Linked DNA regions of Homo sapiens. The protein of the gene in region 1 purifies or fractionates together with the protein of each later gene. This does not show direct contact. Each region holds a gene or a part of one and is shown in the gene's direction. Other genes may lie near its edges.

The links. Proteins that work in one complex are often made in the same cells at the same time.
Region 2: the proteins of PPP2R2A (region 1) and PPME1 purify together in Homo sapiens (affinity purification with mass spectrometry; 3 studies listed by BioGRID and IntAct, with this or other methods). This does not show direct contact.
Region 3: the proteins of PPP2R2A (region 1) and PPP2CB purify together in Homo sapiens (affinity purification with mass spectrometry; 10 studies listed by BioGRID and IntAct, with this or other methods). This does not show direct contact.

What each region holds. Positions count from the first base shown.
Region 1 is NC_000008.11:26,357,508-26,364,532, forward strand, and holds part of PPP2R2A (serine/threonine-protein phosphatase 2A 55 kDa regulatory subunit B alpha isoform), read left to right. Parts: intron 1-2,661; coding exon 2,662-2,774; intron 2,775-3,466; coding exon 3,467-3,644; intron 3,645-5,176; coding exon 5,177-5,341; intron 5,342-6,213; coding exon 6,214-6,383; intron 6,384-7,025. UniProt on the Homo sapiens protein: Substrate-recognition subunit of protein phosphatase 2A (PP2A) that plays a key role in cell cycle by controlling mitosis entry and exit. Involved in chromosome clustering during late mitosis by mediating dephosphorylation of MKI67.
Region 2 is NC_000011.10:74,167,229-74,174,309, forward strand, and holds the start of PPME1 (protein phosphatase methylesterase 1), read left to right. Parts: upstream 1-4,060; 5' UTR 4,061-4,193; coding exon 4,194-4,294; intron 4,295-7,081. Other genes in the region: C2CD3 (C2 domain-containing protein 3), read right to left, coding at 1,116-1,385, 3,510-3,564. UniProt on the Homo sapiens protein: Demethylates proteins that have been reversibly carboxymethylated. Demethylates PPP2CB (in vitro) and PPP2CA. Binding to PPP2CA displaces the manganese ion and inactivates the enzyme.
Region 3 is NC_000008.11:30,809,798-30,816,887, reverse strand, and holds the start of PPP2CB (serine/threonine-protein phosphatase 2A catalytic subunit beta isoform), read left to right. Parts: upstream 1-4,069; 5' UTR 4,070-4,466; coding exon 4,467-4,568; intron 4,569-7,090.

The sequences.
Region 1 (7,025 bases):
ATTTTAATTCTCTTTCTCTTTAATCTTCTTTTGCTCCTCTGAATTCTCATTAATTCCTCTACATTGCAGAAAACATGAAACTGACCTGTCAACCATGAGTGTTACATATATGAATAATGTAAAGTTCACTCATAAATAGGGTGTGTCTTAACAACTTCTTGATAAGTTTTTTAGGGTCTTACATAAAGCTGCATTCCCACAAAGGAAACGGCAGCGTGGTTTTCCCTGCTCATACCTCTCATACCTTCTGCTTGTGGTGAGAGGAACTCTGTTCTTCTGCAGTTTCTCCAATGCTTTAGTTATTAGTGTTGATAATTCAGGGGAACACCACAGTGTGGTCGTTTTGGAAGGAACAGATCTTGAGAATCTAATAACGTCTCCACTGAAAACTGTGTTTTTACATAATCTCACATACAGTTTTATGGAGTTTGATTATTCTCACATACTTTGTCTTATGGGCCAAAAACTCCAGGTAATAAAATATCACTGCTGTAGAACATAAGGATTCTGATTTTTTAAAAATTTATGTCATATTTATTAACATACTGATTTATTTCCTGCCTGCCTTGTCCCCACCTTACTGAAAAATGTATCCTAATTCATATGTGTCCTGTGTTTGTGTTAAGGAAAAAACATTTTTTAAAGAGCTTTCTTCCTGTAAACACTATTAGGCACCACAAACTAATTTTATCTCATCTGAAAGTTTCATAAATACATTGTGGTTTCTTTATTTGGATCTTTAATAAGGAGGATGGATTTAAACAGGCCACAAGACAACTGGACCAGGGGGCGGGGGTGTTGTCATCCTCATCACAAATACTTTGCAAGTATTTAGAACAAATACTTCTCAGAATACAGATTTAGGCTAGGCTCATATCTATCTATAAATCATATACATATATAAACTAAATAACACATAGAAAATCTGTATGACTGAACTACAAGAAAATTATAAGCAAGGTCACATAGGGCTTAGAAGAAATAATAGATTACAGATGATTAAAGTTAGCAGTTTTTCTCTGTTTACACTTCATCATTGGGAAGGGCATCCTTAGGGGCAACTATCATTCTTCTGTACGATACAGAGACTGCCAGGCTAGAGTCACTGGCATCTCTCTGAGTTGTTTCTGTTTTTATAAAATGGCTTTATATACTGTTATAAACAATTTTGTTACACCATTTTGCTTATGAAAGATCGTTAGGAATGTATGCTTTTCTATAAGAAAAACTGTTATACAATTGTAACAGTTTTAAATCAACATGCATGAGCCTATAGTGATACAAATAAACAATTGAATGGATACATGGAGAGCAGGGATGCTTCCTGCAGGAGAATTCTAAATAAGACGTGGATACATACTCTTCCCTACAGGGAGTATAACTTATTTCTCCCTTTAAGTACAGGCTGGATTTAGTGACTCACTTCCAAAGAACAGAATATGGCAAGGGTGAAAGAGTCATTGTATAGTGGAGAAGCCTGGCAAACATTGTCTTAACCAAATGACCCAAGTTAACGCCACCAGCTGTAAGTCATGTTGATACCATGTATCCCTTTGAACAATGCTGTGAGAAGTCACTTCATCTCTCTGTTCTGTTCCTAAAAACCCATGGTCCCAGTCTGATCATGAGGAAAGAGCAAGCAAATCCAGTTGAGGGATATTCTACAAAGTACCTCACCACCACTACTCAAAACTGTCAAGATCAAGAAAAATAAGGAGAGCCTGAGAAACTTAAAGGCAGAGAGACTAAGGAAACTTGATGACTAAATGCAGTGTTGTTTGAATTCTGGAGCAGAAAAGGAATGTTAGTGGAAAACCTGGTTAAATCTCCAAATGCAGTCTGTAGTTAATAGTAATATACAAAGTCGACGTCTTAGTTTTGACACACGTACCATGGTTGCGTAAGATGTTGACAGAAGAAACTGGGTAAAGGATATATGGAACACTGCAATTCTTGTAACTTTCTGTAAATCTAAACTTAATTGTAAAACAAAAGTTTGTTTTTAAACAGATGCCATTTTATATATCCTTGATACCTAGGAATTTGGTTTCTTCTTGAAGGACTTGGGGATGTATGCTTTTAATCAGTTTTCTTCAGGCCCTGTTTCCTACTTGTGAACCCTGATACAAGAAGGGGAAAGGTTTTAAAAAGGAGGCATCCAGTCCTATGGAGGCCTCTGTGGAATCTTTGATAGGCTCTGCTAAGAAGTGGGAGCAAGGGAGAGCAGCTTTACTATTTTGATTCTACATAATAGGCAGTCTTAATCAACTTCATTGTTCCCTTTAAATTTTTTAAAATTCAGTACTGAACATGTATATGTTTACATGTAGGTACAGACATATATGTGTTTGCATACACCACACATGCATATCAAGTTTTTCCCTCTAGCTTTAATTACTTTTAAGGGACAGGGATAGAGACCTGTCTGTGACTTGATTTGACTATCACATGGAATTTATGAGTGCCACCAATCTTTGCACTTTATTTCCATGTGTGTATGTTATTCAGCTGATAATAGGAAATTTTTTAGTAAGTTCAGATTAGGGTTTTTTTTTTTTTCGTGGAATCCTTTTACGTGAAATGTGAAATAGCATATTTTAAATGCCTTAAAATGTTTTTCTTCTTCAGTATTTTAAGGACTTTTCTTTATTTTCTTCCCAGATAAAACAATAAAATTATGGAAAATCAGTGAAAGGGACAAAAGACCAGAAGGGTATAACTTGAAAGAGGAGGATGGAAGGTATAGAGATCCTACTACAGTTACTACACTACGAGTAAGTACATAAGAAAAAAATGTCACAGATAGTGCTTGTATTCATATTATATAGCCCAAATCCTGAGCAGAGCTTGAATAGGAATAATTACAGTCTATCTCCCCTTTCCCAGTAATTCTGTAATCAGGTAGGACATTGAGTAACTCATTTAAACATAGAAACTGACCTACATAGAGGTCTCACTTTGGCCAGGGACAGAAGCAGGACTCAAGCACAAGACAGTATTTCACGCCATCAGACTTCATCTCTGGTTTGTCATGTTAGCTATCACAAGGTCAAGTTTCAAGATAAATTTTCTTTGGAAATCAAAAAAGTAGATACAGATCAAATCTTCTAGTTGTAGCTAAAAAATACCAAGAATTAGATGTTATGGGTTAATTTTCTTTTTAGCCTCTTTAATCTGAACCATAAACATTTATTAGCTTGGCATGTCTTTCAAGCAAAATATTGAAACTAAGAACTGCAAATTCTAATAGTATTGCAACCAGTAAAAGAAGATATATTATCCACATTGTTCATTTTTTCTTCAGCACTCGAAAGGATCAACATCAGTTGCTTTTTAAAACTAAATCTATGTAATATTGTTCTATTTTATGTTCTCAAAAACTGAAATAATGAAGTTTTCTGAATCTTAATTGCTATTTGAAACTGAGCCTTTTGTAATTTCTGTTTTTCATGTGTCTTATTGACAGGTGCCAGTCTTTAGGCCTATGGATCTAATGGTTGAGGCCAGTCCACGAAGAATATTTGCCAATGCTCATACATATCACATCAACTCAATTTCTATTAATAGTGATTATGAAACATATTTATCTGCAGATGATTTGCGGATTAATCTTTGGCATCTGGAAATTACAGACAGGAGTTTTAGTATCCATTTGGTTTTCTTTGGTGTTTGGTGAAGAAGGCATGTTGTGCCCATATTAGATTTATTTCATCTCTCCTAATGAATTTGGTTGCTTTTTATAGTCTGTGTACATATATGTATGGCACCTTATTTTTTTCTTTGTAGATGAGTAATGAAATACTGGAAAAAGTTATTTGCTAAACATAAAGGGCATAATGTATTGATTTAAAATTGGATTCATGGAATTTTAAGGAATTTGTCTATTGTATCTATGTAAATAGGATTATTTTTTATAATTTAGGTTTTTGTTTTAAAAATCACATTTGTGAGGTCTGTGTATGGTAGCTTATGCCTGTAATCCCAGCGGTTTGGGAGGCTGAGGTGGGAAGATCACTTGAGGCCAGGAGTTCAAGGTTTACAGTGAGCTTGATTGTGCCTCTGCACTCCAGCTTGGATGACAGAGCAACACCCTGTCTCTAAAAAAATTTTTTTTCTTCTAATCAAATGTATGAACTACTGTATTTGAATTTTTTATTGTAAAAATAGTCTCACCTGGCTGCGGTGACTCAGCCTGTAATCCCAGCACTTTGGGAGGTCAAGGTGGGTGGATCACCTAAGGTCAGTAGTTCAAAACCAGCCTGGCCAACATAGTGAAACCCCGTCTCTCCTAAAAATACAAAACATTAGCCGGGCATGGTGGCGCATGCCTGTAATCTAAGCTACATGGGAGGCTGAGTTAGGAGAATTGCTTGAACCTGGGAGATAGAGGTTGCAGTGAGCTGAGATTGTGCCATTGCACTCCAGCCTGGGCAACAAGAGTGAAACTCTGTCTCAAAAAATATATATATATAGATTTATATATATTATATTAATTGATATTAAGATTAGATTAAGATTAGATTAAGATTAATCTTAAGATTAGATTAAGATTAATTTTAAGATTAGAAAAAGATTAATAATTAGATTAGATTAGAAAAAGATTAGAAAAAGAAAGATTAAAGATTACGATTAGATTAAGATTAGAAAAAGAAATTCACGCAAGTCATGATGCATGATTGGGTAAATAAAAATATTCTATTGAGGCCGGGCACAGTGACTCATGCCTGTAATCCCAGCACTTTGGGAGGCTGAGGCGAGGCGGATGGATCATGAGGTCAGGAGGTCGAGACCAGCCTGGCCAACATAGTGAAACCCCGTCTCTACTAAAAATACAAAAAAAAAAAAAAATTAGTCAGTTGTAGTGGTGTGCGCCTGTAATCCCAGCTTTTCTGGAGACTGATGCAGTAGAATCGCTTGAACCTGGGAGTCGGAGGCTGCAGTGAGCCGAGATTGCGCCACTGCACTCCAGCCTGGGTGACAGAGTGAAACTCCGTCTAAATAAAAATTAAAAAAAAAAGTTTTAATCCCTTTGGAATTTATACTCATAAAAACAGTGGAGTGCAATTCAGAATTAATATTTTTGCTTAGGTCCATGAATGGGTTTTAGGTTTGAGAAATGTAGAATTATATTTGCCCTTTTTTCTAAGTGGAAATTCCTTAATAAAATGTTATCTAGACATTGTGGATATCAAGCCTGCCAATATGGAAGAGCTAACAGAGGTGATTACAGCAGCAGAATTTCATCCAAACAGCTGTAACACATTTGTATACAGCAGCAGTAAAGGAACTATTCGGCTATGTGACATGAGGGCATCTGCCCTCTGTGATAGACATTCTAAATGTAAGTTTATTGTATCTTTCCTTAAAATGATTACATATTCTGTTTGTCTGAAATAAGCCTCAGACATGATAAGTACAATTACAGAGGTTCAAAGTCTTAAACCCGTGTGTCCAGAGCCACTTGTACCCTTGGTAATCTGCCTACCTCCTCATGAGGCATTCCAGGTTATTCCTGGAAGCTCTCTTGGGGGGCATGTCTATTGATTGCCAAGGAATATATCTCTCATGGAATGCTGTTGTTCTTTGGTAACTTGCGGTTGGGCTCTGTAACCTTGTATTGAAGTAGAGCTGTTCCTTTCTTTCCCATCCTCCCTTCCTACTTTGAGCTTCCTAGGAAGATTTCTTCTGAGGTTTCCTTGGCTTAAAAAAAAAAAAAAAAAAACAACTTTGGTTTAAAAACTTCAGGATACAATATTCTTGTCTTGTTGAATATTAACTCATGAAAATTGATACATGCCTGTTACCAAAATAATTTTACCTGGCTACTAGAAAATAAGATCCTGGTATGAATTTGGGATGGGCGAGGATGGTGTGTTTCTCATGGTGATGATACAGGCAGTCAGTGAGGCATATTGCAGGAATAATACCAATAAACCTGGTGCACTGAAGTCAGAAGTCCCAGGTGAGTCTGGTTCTAAATTAGTCATATGACTGGAAGTATACTGCATACTTATGCATCTTCAACTTCAATATTCAATTAAACTAAGAAGCTTTCAGGAGAATTCTAGCCAGAGAGATGTTTTTCAGTTCTTTATTAGCCTGGCATTTTACCTCACTTGTAGGGAGTTTGTGAATGGTTGTTTAGGAAATGCTTTGTCCAAGCCAGAATATTGTACACCTTGCCCTTTTTGTGTTGTTTTGTTTTGTTTTTAGTGTTTGAAGAACCTGAAGATCCCAGTAACAGGTCATTTTTTTCCGAAATCATCTCCTCTATTTCGGATGTAAAATTCAGCCATAGTGGTCGATATATGATGACTAGAGACTATTTGTCAGTCAAAATTTGGGACTTAAATATGGAAAACAGGCCTGTGGAAACATACCAGGTATTTGAGTTTTTTCTTTCAATGAGCATATACCCTGTTTACTTTGAAGTGTTTATAGAGAAGGATTTTGTTACTAGGTTTTAATCCCTGTATGGTGTTTGTTCACCATTAGGCCTTTTCCCTCAGAGATCTATGAGTATGTTGCTCTTCCTTATGTTAAATGTATATATACTTACATAGGTTGTGTTGTCTCTTGAGTTTTGCAGTTAAAGTGTGATTTTGCTACCCATTTGGTTCAGTATTGACATTGTTTTTTTTTCTGCCACTATGTACATTTAAAGTGAGGATGGAAGAGCACCCTTCATTGAGGTCTGGGCAGGAAGAGGATTGGAGAAAGTGGCCAGTCCTTAGTAGAGGTGCACCTGCTCAGGTTGTGGGAGTAGTTGAACTAGAGATTAAATTTGGTGTGCCAAGTCAAATGGACTGGTGTTCTGCCTTTTGGCAGATAACTGTTGTCTTCAGCTAAAAGAAAGGGCTTGAAAGCCTTAGCAGATGGCTTTAGGAGTTGCCTATCCGTTGTTGGATGTCAGTTCTTGATTCTCTTATCAGCCAGCCACTACTGTTTATCCGTGTCCACTACATCAAACAGAAGAGAATGAAGTACACAGCCTGGAACAGGGTGAGGGACAGCACAAACCTGTG
Region 2 (7,081 bases), on another chromosome or scaffold:
AAATACCTTCTCTCTTATTGAATTTCTAATCACTCCTCATTTGTTATATTATATAAAAATACTACCTGAGGATTTAATTTTTAAGCTTACAGTACCAAGATTATTTATATCTTTTAATCGCACTTACTGCTTTTAACCTACTATTAATAACTAAACTTTTTTGTGAAGTTAGAGTTCGGGATCATTCTTATTAATTTTTTGGATTTTTTGTAAACCCCATGGTGCCTAAAACAATGTGTAGTATGTGCTAAACATATTTTTTGAATGACTGAATTACAGCATTTGTTCTTTACATGTTGATGTTTCAAAAATTTTTTCTCGAGAGAATGTAAGTTACTCAAGGACAAGTTAATCTTAACTCACCCCTGGCTCTCCAATATTCTGAGCCCAACCATGTTTACATGATAAATGCTCGAATTTTATTGACTTGAACTGAATTGACTTGATAAATAACCCCATCATCCAAAATGTATTTATGTGAAAGCTTGACCTGAATAAAGAAGTAACATAGTACACTCAGAATACTTTTCTTGTACAAAAATGAAGACATCTTGGCTTCTGGTTCCCTACAGAGGGATGCTTTCCATTTCTGAACATCTGTAATACTAACTCACTAAACCATTCATTTAGCATTTAGTATGTATTATCTTGTACTATTGGTAAATTTTACATCTATATCCTCTTTCCTTGAGTATAATGTAAACCCCAGAGTTGAGACTACAGTTATTACCTAAAAAAGCATGGTGTAGTGAAAAGAGCATGAGTTTTGGTGACAGACAGAAGTGGGTTCAAATCCTAATTCAGCCATTTATCAACTTTGTGACCTTAGAAAGTATTCATTTCATCTCTCCAACTTGTTTAATTGTCTATAAAACAGAGAAAATACCTATCTTTCAGGGTTATTGTAAGGATTAGAAGTAATACATTTCAAAACTGCTGGCACACAGTAACACTCAATAAATTTACAAAGAAAAATGTCTACTATAAAAACTCTTTGACTCTTCAATAATTAAGAATGCCCATATATGCTAGGTACACAACAACACTTATTGCTGACAATATAACCACATGCTTTGTATTACGTCTGCAGGTGCAATGATAAAACAATAACATACCTGTTAGATAAGAGGTAAACTGTTTTGGACCACAACGAATAGCGTAACGTGTAGTTGTTCTCACAGCTTTTGGTTCAGTCTGCAATGCATCCCTGGGACAAAAGAGGGTTCCATCTGATGTTTCTCCCCACCATCTCACTCGGACAAGTACACAAGTGGGAGGCTTTGCAATCTTCCATATGACTCTATTAACAGTAAGTTTTAGAAAACAGCGTAGCTGGCCTTCAACCAGAGGTGGCAGGCTTGTAGATGGAGAAATGTCACTTAAACCTGTAGAGGAATCCAAGAAAACTGAGTCAAAATTTAGACTAAATATAGAAAACATATAATATGCTTTTTGAATGAAAACAAACAGAACACTTTAGTCTTAAGTTCAGCAATTTATCACCACTTAGAAAGAAGGTTTATCCTACCCATTATTCTAATACATGAGAAGTAACTATCAAATCAGACCACCGAATAATCTATCTGGTCATGTAAGCCACTCTGATAACTAATTAGTATTTAAGGTTTGATTTGATTTACTCTAAGTTAAGAACATACCAACAAAGACACACTAATATAAACTTTTCTTTAGTTGAGTTACTATTTGAAAAATACAAATATCAGAAGTAGTTGACATTTTTCTAAGTATGGTTGAAATTTTTCTAAGTACAGTTGTTTTAATTATTGCAACATCTATGGTTTTTAAGATATGTAATCTTTATCTAACTCTCTTTTAAAAAAATCACTAACGATAAAACAGCAACAACTCCCTTCACTCACAAACGATTTAGACTATATCATACAACTCAGCATTTCAATGAAGAACGTCTTAAATTGTAACTTTTCTTTCCTGCCAAGATCACACAGTCAGTGAGGACACAGACTATCTAATCTTCAGATTCTGCCACTATTTTTAACACAGTGCTGGGTTCATATATTTATTGGCTTTAGTATTTATTGGGTTTCATAAAGACATTAAAGTGTAAACAAAGCAATTAATCATGACTTTCTAAAAAATTTTCCTTTAATGACCCTGATTGTCTTTCATTCATAGTACCTTTTCGGGAAAACTTAAAGGAGATTTAAGAAACCATTCCTATATTATTTATACCTTTTTTTTCCTTTGACTTTTCTTTGAGGAGTGGTTATGCCTCAAAGAAGAAAATATATGGAATGTATCAGATCAGGACTAATTATTTGGACTTCTAATGCAAACACCGCCTCTGCCCTCTATAGTGGAGAAAAGACCCACCATAATCCTTATGGATAGTTTCAACATAAAAATTATACACAGTTGTGTATACATTTCTACATATGGAAATGGTATAGCAAAAAGTGTATTCTGTTCTATGCTATGTTATATTATTTCTACTTTGACTTTCCGATTATCAACCAAACATGCTTAACTGTTTTGACACAGGGAGCACTAGTATGCTTCAGTCTCAGATCCTCCTATCTTTCCTGGCAGGAAAGTCAGTATCTCAAAACTGCCTTAGTAATCTTTAAACAGCTTGGATAAGAGTAATTCCCAGATTGTAGCTTCAGTCCTCAACCCAATGGCCTAATGTCCTATCACTGTTCCCAATACTTCTTTTCTCGCTAAACTGCCTACAATGCAAAAAGGCAGGGTCACCCACTGTCCTTTTTCCCTTCGAGGCAGTCTTGTAGAGATTCAATGTCAAGTTTCCTGATCTGCCCTGGGTTCCTAGGTTGACTGTTCTCACTGCAGCTAACATCCCCTACTCGGTGAGCTTGTGTCTCCTTGAGCTGCTAACCTGATGAGGACTCTCTGCTGCACACTCTTTCATGATCTCAGGTCCTTCAGGAGATCGTCATGCCCTTACCCCCACTCCAATCCTATCACACCTGTCATTCCCCACTCTTCCCGGCTCTATACTCTACAATTATTTTTCCCAACTCCTGCTCATAGTCAGCCCTTCATACTTCATTCATTCAACTAACATTTACCGAGTCCTGCTTTGTACTAATCCTTGGTCATTCAGTAATGTATAAAACGTGATTCTTGCCCACAATCACACAACAAATGATATAATCCCTTTGCCAATTTATGTTTCTTCCTGTCCCTGTGGACCTCGAAAGCTACACACACACATACATTTCACTTCGTTATCAAAACCAATCCCATCATTGTTTGTTCTTCTCCTCTACAGTCATCCTACCGGTAACCTTCATCTCATTAATCGCCTGTCTGTGGCCCCTACCCCAGCCCCTAATTCCTTTCTATTCTCTGGAGGGCCAATTGCCCTTCCTTTTAACCTTCTGGTTCCCTGGCTACTTCCTTCTTACGTCCCTTTTCTTGTTTATCCAGCGGGGGTGCGGGTCTCCCTAAAATTCCTTACACCCTGCTCTCCTATTACGCTTTCCTCAATCTTTGATCGCTCAGGTTACCTCTTTTTTTGCGCCCACGGCTGCCCCCAGACCCTTGGCCTTTTCGTTGTTTCATGATGAGCCCGAGCTCTTCTTCACCAGCTCAACTCCGTCTCCAGCACCTAAGCAGTATCCTCCCGCCATCCCTCCCCACGGCGCCTGCGTTCCCCGGCAACCGGCGCCGCTGGGCAGCCTGGGAGGCAGGAAAAAGCGACTCTTCCTCTAACAGTCTCCGGAAAACGGTGCGAAGAGAAGGCGCCAAGACGCCTTCCCTCCAATACACTACAATACCCAGGACGCTTTGCTACAATACCTCTCCGGGGTTGGCTGGGGGGCGCCTCCAGCTGCGCAAGCGCATAGGGATGCGCCCTTTGTGGACTCCATTGCGCAGGGTGCATTGCCCTGAAGAGCGCTCCTCCTTCCGGTGAAAGTCGTCGGGTTCCCAGCCGGGAGTCTGCGGAGTTCTCATACTCTGTTACCCAGCTTCCTTTGTATGAGTGCTGTTGCGCACTTCCGGTGGAAGCGCTGAAGCGAGTGGGTGGAGTTTACGGAGCCGGTGGGCGGTAGGCGGTGCTACGGGTAGCTGGGTGCTGTCCAAAGGCGACAGGGCGTCGTTAGGGGAGCGAGTCGTGACCGGTTGGGCCACACTCAACGTGGGACGAAGCTTCGCCTACTGTTTGACTACGTGCGTGCAGCCTCCCCTCGATGTCGGCCCTCGAAAAGAGCATGCACCTCGGCCGCCTTCCCTCTCGCCCACCTCTACCCGGCAGCGGGGGCAGTCAGAGCGGAGCCAAGATGCGAATGGGGTACGTGACCCATACCCCTTCTCCCTATGGGCCAGGCCCCAGCCGTTGGAGAATGGTATCTCTGGGCGTTCATAGAGGCACGGGAAAGGAGTCTACTGATAGGAGAAAATGTTGGCGGCCTGGAGATATTTAGATGGAGTAGAAGGCAGATTGGGGTACTAGGGGAGGCGCCAAGTCAATAGAAATTGGAGGAAAAATAACGTTGTTGAAGGGAGAGGGGAATGAGGCAAAGGTTGGGGAAGCTGAGAGACTAACATAAGGGATCTGAGAATCACTTCCACAATAAAGGAGGCTTAGAAAAGGGAGTAGAACGGTGACAAAGGTGGAGGAGAATCGGCCAGGGAAGGTGGAGGGAAGTGGGGAATGACTGAGAGAAAAGTTGAGGGGAATTGGGCCAACAACTAAGGAAAGGTTTGGGAGGAGTAGATATTATCAGAGTTCTAATATCTGCACTGTGAGAACTAGATACTAGAAAAGCTGAGGGGGGTAGAAAACACTCGAGACAGGGCTGGAGAAGGAAAGAGGAGAACTAGGAAGCAGACGATTCTAGAGAATTCCCAGAGGTGTAAAGACAGATTCAGCGAATGAGAGGTGAGATTAGGTCTCTTAAGGGAGAATGAGAAAGTTTAGGGAGTAGGCCTAAGGTAAGGTGGAGAACATAGCCACGAAGATTGTTAAGGGTAGTAGGAATGTGCTGAGAAGCTGGACAGGATAAGGGAGAGAGAAGAAGGAGAGGACTGAAGAATTTACAGAGTGAGAAGCTGGACAGGATAAGGGAGAGAGAAGAAGGAGAGAACTGAAGAATTTACAGAGTGACCATAGGCTCTAAAGATTGAGAGATGACTATAAATACGGTTTGGTGAATGGAAGTGCTGCAGTTGTAAGGTCTGGGAAGCTTAGAGGAAGATTTGGGCAATCAGTTTTTGCTGGGCTAGTAGATCTGAGGGAAGCGACGTACTGGCCTAAGACTTTGAATTAGTGAAGCATTGGGAGTTCGAGAAATAGTTTGCTGGAAAGGAAGGAGAGCCATGTAGAAGAGATAGGTTTTGGAATTTTAGATCGTTAAATGGCTTGTGCCAGGTTAGGGGATACTTGGGCCGAGGAGAAAGAATGAGGTGAACATGGGAGAAGTAATTGCTGGAAAGTGGAGAGAATTGAATAGGCATTTGGTTTTGAGGGGATATTTGTAGTTTCAAACAGGATTCTGGGAATTAGTGACTGTAAAGAGAAAAGGAGTAGGAAAGATACTTAGGTATGAGGGCTCCAGAGTATATTTGGGATTCTAGAGATGAATTGGTAGATATTCTTTGAAAAAGGACTACAGAAGAGAAACCTTAGGTTCTGAAGAAGTAATATGTGTAAAAACTTATCAAAAAGGAGGCGAGAGTAGGAGATGCAGTACTGTGACAGTAAGTCCTAGGGATGAAAAGAAAGGAGAATCCTATAAAACAGTGGGGTAAAGGAATGGGAAAAATGGGTGGAAAAACCAGGGAAGGAAACTAAGAATTGAGTGGAGACCTGCTATGATACGCAGTAGAAAAATGAGAAAACTTTAGCAGGAGGAGATAGAGAGATAGACGCACAATAGAGGTAGAAGGCTACATAGAAGGTAAAGTGAAGATTGTTTTGGCTTTGGAAGACAGAAAAGTTGGACTATAACATGAATAAAGAGAATTTGGAAACTGACCCATAACATTATTTGGGAAAACTAACCTGGAGTTTAATATTAATGTAACATTAATTGTTGTTAAATATCTTAGTTGCTGCCTTTCTTAAAATAAATTTGATTTTTCAGTATACCAGCACCCTTCTATACAAATACATAAGAAAATCAGATTTTTAATAATTATACATTCCTTAGATAAGCTTAATTAGAGCTCAGCTTCTCATCTTGGAGAAACAAGTTCTCTGAAGATTGAAGAACTGAATGAAGATACTGAGAGAAAAAAAAAGGAAAATCTGCTGATTAGAAGATTGTATAATTGTTAGTAATTTATCGTTTTTATTTTTTATTACTTTTCATTTTATTTTTTTTTAGAGACAGAGTCTCACTCTGTTGCCCAGGCTAGAGTGCAGTGGCACAATCTCGGCTCACTGCAACTTCCACCTCCCGGGCTCAAGTGATTCTTGTGCCTCAGCCTCCCAAGTAGCTGGGATTACAGGCATGCACCACCACGCCCGGCTAATTTTTGTATTTTTAGTAGAGAGGGGATTTCGCCATGTTGGCCAGGCTGGTCTTAAACTCCTGGCCTTAAGTGATCTGCCCCACTTGGCTTCCCAAAGTACTGGGATTATAGGAGTGAGCTACTGTGCCTGGACAACTTACCTTTTTAAAAAGATGCTTTGGTCTTCTTGGTTTAGGTTAACTGCTTATCCTGGAAAAGAAAGTTCTTTAGAAAGGCCTTTCTTTATGATAGTATTGTGAAGAGAAGAGCATATATTGGCGAATATTTGTGTGGTCCTCAAATGGCTTATTTTCCCGTATCTTTCTTTTCTACTTTATTGGTATATAAGCAGGCTTCATCTAAGTCTCATGGTAGTAATAATATAGATTCTCTTTCTCCTTAGAATCATAAAGCTGAGAGAAAGCATAGACATGGTCTCATTTCACCACTTCATGTAGTTGAGGAACCCAATATTCAGAGAGTTCTGTATTCTATAAGGGAATGTATTAATAAATGAGGGAACTGAGACTCAGATATTCCTAAGGTACCCTAGAAGCTTAGCGGTAGGGCCGTTAAGGACTAGGACTTGGGTCTCTTGACTGTGAGACCCATTGTGTATTTT
Region 3 (7,090 bases), 4.5 Mb from region 1:
TTTTGGGCAGAAGGGTGAGAATAGAGGATGAGAACTATGATCTTTTTATTGATCATGATTTGTTGTTTTTAAATGCAAAGAAAGCATTTCCAATTTGATTTTTTCTATATTAATTTTAATTTTTGTAATCATTATCAATAGATATTCTTATGCAGAATTCCCTGTGACAATTTTGATAATATCATATTCACATTCTAAGTATCAGAAGGTATTTGAACTGGAAATGAAAGTATTTCTTTAATCATTTGAGGATTACAGTGATATAGGAGAATCATTTTTAGACCCATACAATGTATAATTGTAGCATATAATTATGTGGATACATTACAAGATATAAATGATTCATATTTCATATTTTAAATGGTATATAATACATTAGGAAAAATATCAATGTTTATATATTTTAAAAGAGCCTAGTCAATTAAGTAGGAAGAAAATCTCACATGTACTTTTAAGGCAAATAATCTGTGGAAGATTTCTTTTTAATTATTTAACCAAAAGGAGAGAGGTAAACAGAATAACAATAAGAAAACCTCTAGGTCAAAAAAGAAAATTAGATCTGGCCTATAAACCTAAGATTAAATGCAGTTTGGCATGACAAGTAATTTAGCAAGGATTGGAGGTTGATGGTTATGTTCTGAAGGAGAACACACACACACAGACACACACACAAACACACACGTCTGACAGAAGCAGAAAGCAAAAAAGAAATAAGTTTAAGAATTATTGTTCTTCCAGACTGGCCCACATGTTGAAACCCTGTCTTTACTAAAAATACAAAAATTAGCCGGGTGGTAGTGGCATGCACCTGTAATCCCAGCTACTTGGGAGGCTGAGGCAGGAGAATCGCTTGAGCCTGGGAGGTGGAGGTTGCAGTGAGCCAAGATCGTACCACTGTGCTCCAGTCTGGGTGGCAGAGTGAGACCCTATCTCAAAAAAAAAAAAAAAAAAGAATTATTGTTCTTATTTATAATTAAGAGACCGTCACAACCAAAATAGCAAAAACTGATATTGTAAGTCATCAAGCCCCTTGGCCAATCTACCATTCTTGGGCTTTCCATGTTCCCATCCACACTGCAGGGACCATAGAACATAAAGCATGGAGTAGAACTCATATGTGAGTGTTAATCTGTACCCCACCAGTACTATCTGTGTGACTTGAACATGTATTTAAACCTCTACCTGTCTTTCTTTTCATCTGTAATATGGAAAGTATAATAACACCAGCCTCATGAGGTTACTGGAGCATTAAATGAGAAGCTACATGTAAAAACATTAGTATATAGGAACTACTCAAAGAAAGTATTCTTCTTTGTTCTACATCACTACTTGACTAAACTTCTTAGAAGTACTATTTTCACAAACACCTACTCACCTCTAAGAATATTCTCTCACATTCATTTCAAACACATTTGCTTCTATTTCAAGGACCTCCCTCCCTAACTACCATCCACAGTTCCCACTTGCCCTCAGGGTATATTTTGTTTTCAGTCCATCTTCTCTAGGAACCCTGAACATATTCTCATTCTCACTTTTGTTCCGAGCTTTCCAAGCTTAGCCGAAAATCAGCTTCCTTTTTTATGTATGTATTGAGACAGGATCTCACTTGTTGCCCAGGCTGGAGTTACGGTGGTGCAATCTTGGCTCACTGCAACTTCCGCCTCCTGGGCTCAAATGATCCTCCCACCTCAGCCTCCTGAGTAGCTGGGACTACAGGCATGCGCCACCATGCCCGGCTAATTTTCCGTAGAGACAGGGTTTCACCATATTGCCCAGGCTGGTCTTGAACTCCTGAGCTCAAGTGATCCTCCCACCTCAGCCTCCTAAGGGCTAGGATTACAGGTGTGAGCCACTGCACCTGGCCCAGCCTCCTTTAAAGCCTTATAGACTAACCTCCTCAGAGAATGTAATATCTATTGCAATGATATCTCACCAGTATTGTTTCATCACCTTTTGTGTTTTGTTCAACTGGTTTGCTGCTATTTACAAGCTGTTGAGAGCAGGAGCTCTTCCAGCCTTATTTCCAACAATATAATCTATTTCTGTTGCTAGGAGAATTTATAGCTTTCCAAACAGACAATGAATGGTCTTTCACTCATTTGTCTACTGGCACACGCACAAAAAAATTCCTTAGACCTTCTTTCCTCTTCTCCAGGCAACTTCAAGCTTTTGCCTTGAGAGAAGGTTGAAAATTCAGTTCAATTACCGCTTTTCTAAAGCTTTCTGTAATTGTTCCCTAGGAGGGGTAAGGCAACTAACATATCGCTCCCATACCGTACTATTGGGCAGGCACTTTTAAAACTTAATCTTCACAAAGGTAGGCCTTTTATTGATTTTAACAGATGAAGAATTTGAGGCTTACGGAGGTTTGATGATTGCCCAAGGACATAGCTAGGGGGTTAGCAAACACAAGAACCCTTGCTTTCTGATACAGGATGTTACCTTCCACTTGGGTTCAGCCGCAGTAGTATGTACCTTTAATAGACACAGTATGATCATTTAGCACATGCTATTCAAGGTATCTGGCAGCTAGCAGCTGCTCATGTTACCTAACTGAATTTAGGTCCTCCCTCAAGTACGGCAAAGCCAAACACTGACATTGGGGTTTGTAGTGAAAGTGAGGCATTTATTGCATTGCACCAAGCAAGAAGAATCAGGCAGCTCATGCTTAAGACCCCAACTCCCTGATGGTTTACAGGTAAGGGGTTTTTTGTGTGCTTTTTTTTTTTTTTTTGAAACAGAGTTTCACTCTTGTCACCCATGCTGGAGTGCAATGGCGAGATTTCGGCTCACTGCAACCTCCACCTCCCGATTTCAAGTGATTCATCTGCCTCAGCCTCCCAAGTAGCCGGGATTACAGGCGCCCACCACCATGCCCAGCTAGTTTTTGTATTTTTAGTAGAGAAGGGGTTTCACCATGTTGGCAGGCTGGTCTCCAACTCCTGGCCTCGGCCTCCCAAAGTGCTGGGATTACAGGCATGAGCCACTGCGCCCAGCCCAGGTAAGGATTTTTAAAGGCAGGGAGGCAGAGGTTACAGGCAAAGTCATAAATCAATACATGGAGGCTATACGTGGGTTTGATCTAAAAAGCCAGGATATCTGAAGCAGGGACCCACAGGTCATAGATGGATTCAAAGATTTTCTGATTTGCAATTGGTTAAGGAGGCAAAGCTTTGTGAATTCTTCCAGGCTCCTCAGGAAGAAATTTAGAACAAAGATAGGTAGTTTGAGATCTCCATGCCAGTGGACACCATTTTCCATTTGGTGAGGTCCAGGTTTCTGAAAAACAACTCAGGGACATATGTCGTCTTTAGTTTCTATAGGGAAGCAAACATTTTGTGAATCTAACGTCCTTGGCTACTGTCTTAAGCTATTATTACCTTCTTGCTTATCAGGTTGCTCATTGACTTATTGAGGAAGTTAGGTGCCTGGAATGTCCCTTCAGGGAACTCAAGATTTTCCTTTATTTCCATGCTTGGGGAGGGGGGTGCCTAGATGGCCCCTAAGAGGGGTCCCTGTTCTGTCTCTCAATAAATATTTGTTGAATGAACAAATCATTACAACTCAGTACACATTGCAGAAAATATAGCCAAGAGCTCTGGAGCTGGAAGGGCCACAGATTATCCTACAGAACAATCATTTCACTTTTCTAATGTCGAAAGGGAGGATTCGAGATGTTAGGGGCTACAGGTGAGGCTGGAAATAATTAATTTACTCCATCAATATTGAATGCCTGCTATTGAGTGCTAGACTCTGGGGAGACAATGTTAAGGGAAGCCCAAGTTTTCCAACTCCCTGTCCAGAGCGCTGCAAAGTACTGCAGGAAGCTAAAGTGAGGACAAAGTTCCCAGAGATCAGGATATTTAAAGGGAGAACCAGCAGAGCTTGGTCTGGGGCAGGGTGGGGAAAAGAGGGACCCTGGCCTCCTCGGACCGTTTCTCCGCCAAGCCACGCGAGGGCGCTGTTCTGCTCCTAGGGCGCCGTGTCCCGGCGGCGCCGCCTGCTCGCCTTTTCCCGGCGGAAATGCCCGAGCGATGACGGAAACCCGGAGGGAGGGGAGAGAAAGAGCGAGAGAAGGGGAAAGACAAGTCGGGAGAGGCCGGTAGGCGTGAGGCGGGCCTGAAGCGGCAGCGGGCGGCCTTCGTCCGGCGAGAGCTAGGCCGAGGACCCGCGCCGCGCTCCCCGGCACCTCACCGCGTCCTTCACCGACTCCCGCGGCGCGCGGCCGGGCGGGGAAGGGCGGGCGGGGGTCTCCTCCAGGCTGCGCGCTCGGAGCCGCCTGCTGGGCTTGGGCGGGGCGCGGGGCCCGCGGCCGCCCTACCCGGCTCAGTCCTCCCCCTGTGGGACCTGGCGACGGCGGCGGAGGGAGAGGGGAGCGGCGCCCGGGCCGGGGCCGGGGGCGGGTGGGGAGGGGGGAGGGCGGCGGCCGGGCTGGGGCTCGGGATCCGCATCGGGATCGGGCCGCCATGGACGACAAGGCGTTCACCAAGGAGCTGGACCAGTGGGTCGAGCAGCTGAACGAGTGTAAGCAGCTGAACGAGAACCAAGTGCGGACGCTGTGCGAGAAGGTGAGGGCGCCGCGGGGGCGAGTGCGGGAGCGCGGGGCTGGGACGGGCCGCCGCTTTCCTGCCCGCCCCGGTCCCGTCCGCCCCTGGCCCGGCGCGGCCCACCGGGGGCCTGCGGGGCTGTGGGTCCGGCTCCGGCGTCCACCTAGGCGGCCGGCCCATCGGTTCAGGGCCCGGGGCGTTGGGCTGCCCTCGCCTGCCCCTTCCACCTCCGCCTCACGCCCCCGGCCGGCTGCCCAGATCCCGGGCGTGGGGGGCTCGGGTGCGGACGGGCGGGGAAACGTAGCCCCCTGAGCCAAGCAGGAGGTTGGTCGGGGTCGCCTGCGCTCCACTGGGGAGTTCCTGCCACTCTAGCATTTCCCGAGTGGACTAGCGAGAGCGACGTCCGAAAAGGACCATTTTCAGACCAGTTTCTGAAAATGCAACTAAAATTAACCAGAATGTCGTGCGTATTAATGAACTTGTTAATAAATGCAGAATTTTTGTCAGGTGAACGGGGCACCTCAGAAATCACTAACTCAAGCCGGGCGTGGTGGCTCACGCCTGTGGCCACAGCTACTCGGGAGGCTGAAGCGGGAGGATTGCTTGAGCCCAGGAGTTAGAGACCAGCCTGGGCAACATAGTGAGGCCCCGTCTCCACACACAAAAAATTTTTTTTAATTAGCAGGGTGTGACGGCGGGTGCCTGTAATCCCAGCTATTCGGGAGGCTGAGGCGGGAGGATCGCTTGAGCCCAGGAGGTGGAGGCTGGTTGCAGTGAGTCGAGATCGCGCCACTGCACTCCAGCCTGGGCGACAGCAAAAAAAAAAAAAAAAAAATCGCTGATTCTTGAATGTGCCAAGCGTTTGTTTGCGGAGAGGTAGGCGTGATGGCCAACTGTGATTTTTAAAATAGAGGTTGACTTTGGTGGAAACAGATGGTGACTGGTCTTTGTGTTGAGTGGCTCTTGGAAGTAAAGTGTTGATTTTCAGAAACGAGAGCCGATCTTAAGTTTGGGAACAGTGTTTGCTGGAAATGATAAGTGGGATGTGTGTTTTCATGCACGATAGCACTTTGCAGAAAGTTATTTTTGTTTTTAATATATATAAAGTTTTTTTCCAAAGAATAATAAAACATGCGGGTGATCAGTTCGTTCTTGTACATCGTGAGTGTGTGATCTTCACTTTGTAAATTCTGTATCCATTGTTTTCTTAACCCCTGAAATTATTTCGATCTCTCCATCTTTGAAGTCTAGAGTTGTCCACATTCATCCTTTACAAGGTGGACTAAATAATTTTCATGTATTTTTAGGTTAAAAATTCTCACTTGAAGTGCATGAAGAAGTAACGATGTTATTTTAAAACGTAATCTATAAAATTTTCTTAACCGTAATGTTTAGAAGTCATGATGTGGCAGAAGTGCACTGGAGAAGGAAAGATTTTGTTAGTCTGATTTTAGGGTACTCTTAAGATCATGAAATTTACTTAGAAAAGGAGCACTAATAGATGGTGTTAAGTTACAATATTTTTAACGGGTGTAATGTTGGTCGGGGCCTTTGTGTATTAAGTAACTATTTGTTAACACAGGAGGATTTATTTTTGTAAATAGAAGTGCCAAGCAAGTGGTATTTTTCTCTTTCTGAAACAAACTGCTTACTTGTGGCTTCAGTTGACATTCATTTTTATTGTGATAACCTGTAATTTCATGAGTCTTAAAATTTATGCCTTAAACATCTCTCTCCAGCTCTAATGCGAAGTGAAATGTACAGGTTTGAAATGATCTGAGTCAGTTAACCTGACTATGAGCATCAGAATACAGACTTGAAGTTATGGGTAAAGTGTTAGTTGAATCAGTTTTTCCCATTGACTTCCTTTTTTTGTTTTATTTTTGTTTTGAGACAGAGGCTCAGTCTGTCGCCCAGACTGGAGCGCAGTGGTGCCGTCTCTGTTCACTGCAACCTCCACCTCCGGGGTTCGAGGGATCCTCCTGCCTCAGCCTCCCGAGTAACTGGGATTACAGGTGCATGCAGCCATGCACTGCTAATTTTTGTATTTCTAGTAGAGATGGGGTTTTGCCATGCTGGCCAGGCTGGTCTAGAACTCCTGGCCTGAAGTGATCCCTCAGCCTTCCAAAGTGCTGGGATTACAGGCGCGAGCCTCGTGCACAGCCCCTATTGACTTTCTAATAATTTTAAGATGAACTTCTAGAGAAGAATATTGTACCACTGCTGTACTTTGAAATAATCACACCGGAGTGTCAACGATCACTTGAGGAAGCTTTCTGTATTTGTCAAAAGAGATTATTTTTACTTCGGCTCCTAAATAAATCAGACTAACAGTTCCTAGGACTTCACAGGTATATTTAAGATTATCTCTTGTATCTTACTAGCCTTTTTTGGGGGCGGGGGGGGGACGCAGTCTTGGTGTGTCAGTCAGGCTGGAGTGCAGTGGGGCAATCACCGCTCACTGCAACCTCAACTTCTGGGGCATAAGGGACCCTCCCACTTCAGCCTCTCAAGTAGCTGGGACCACAGGCATGTGTCACCAC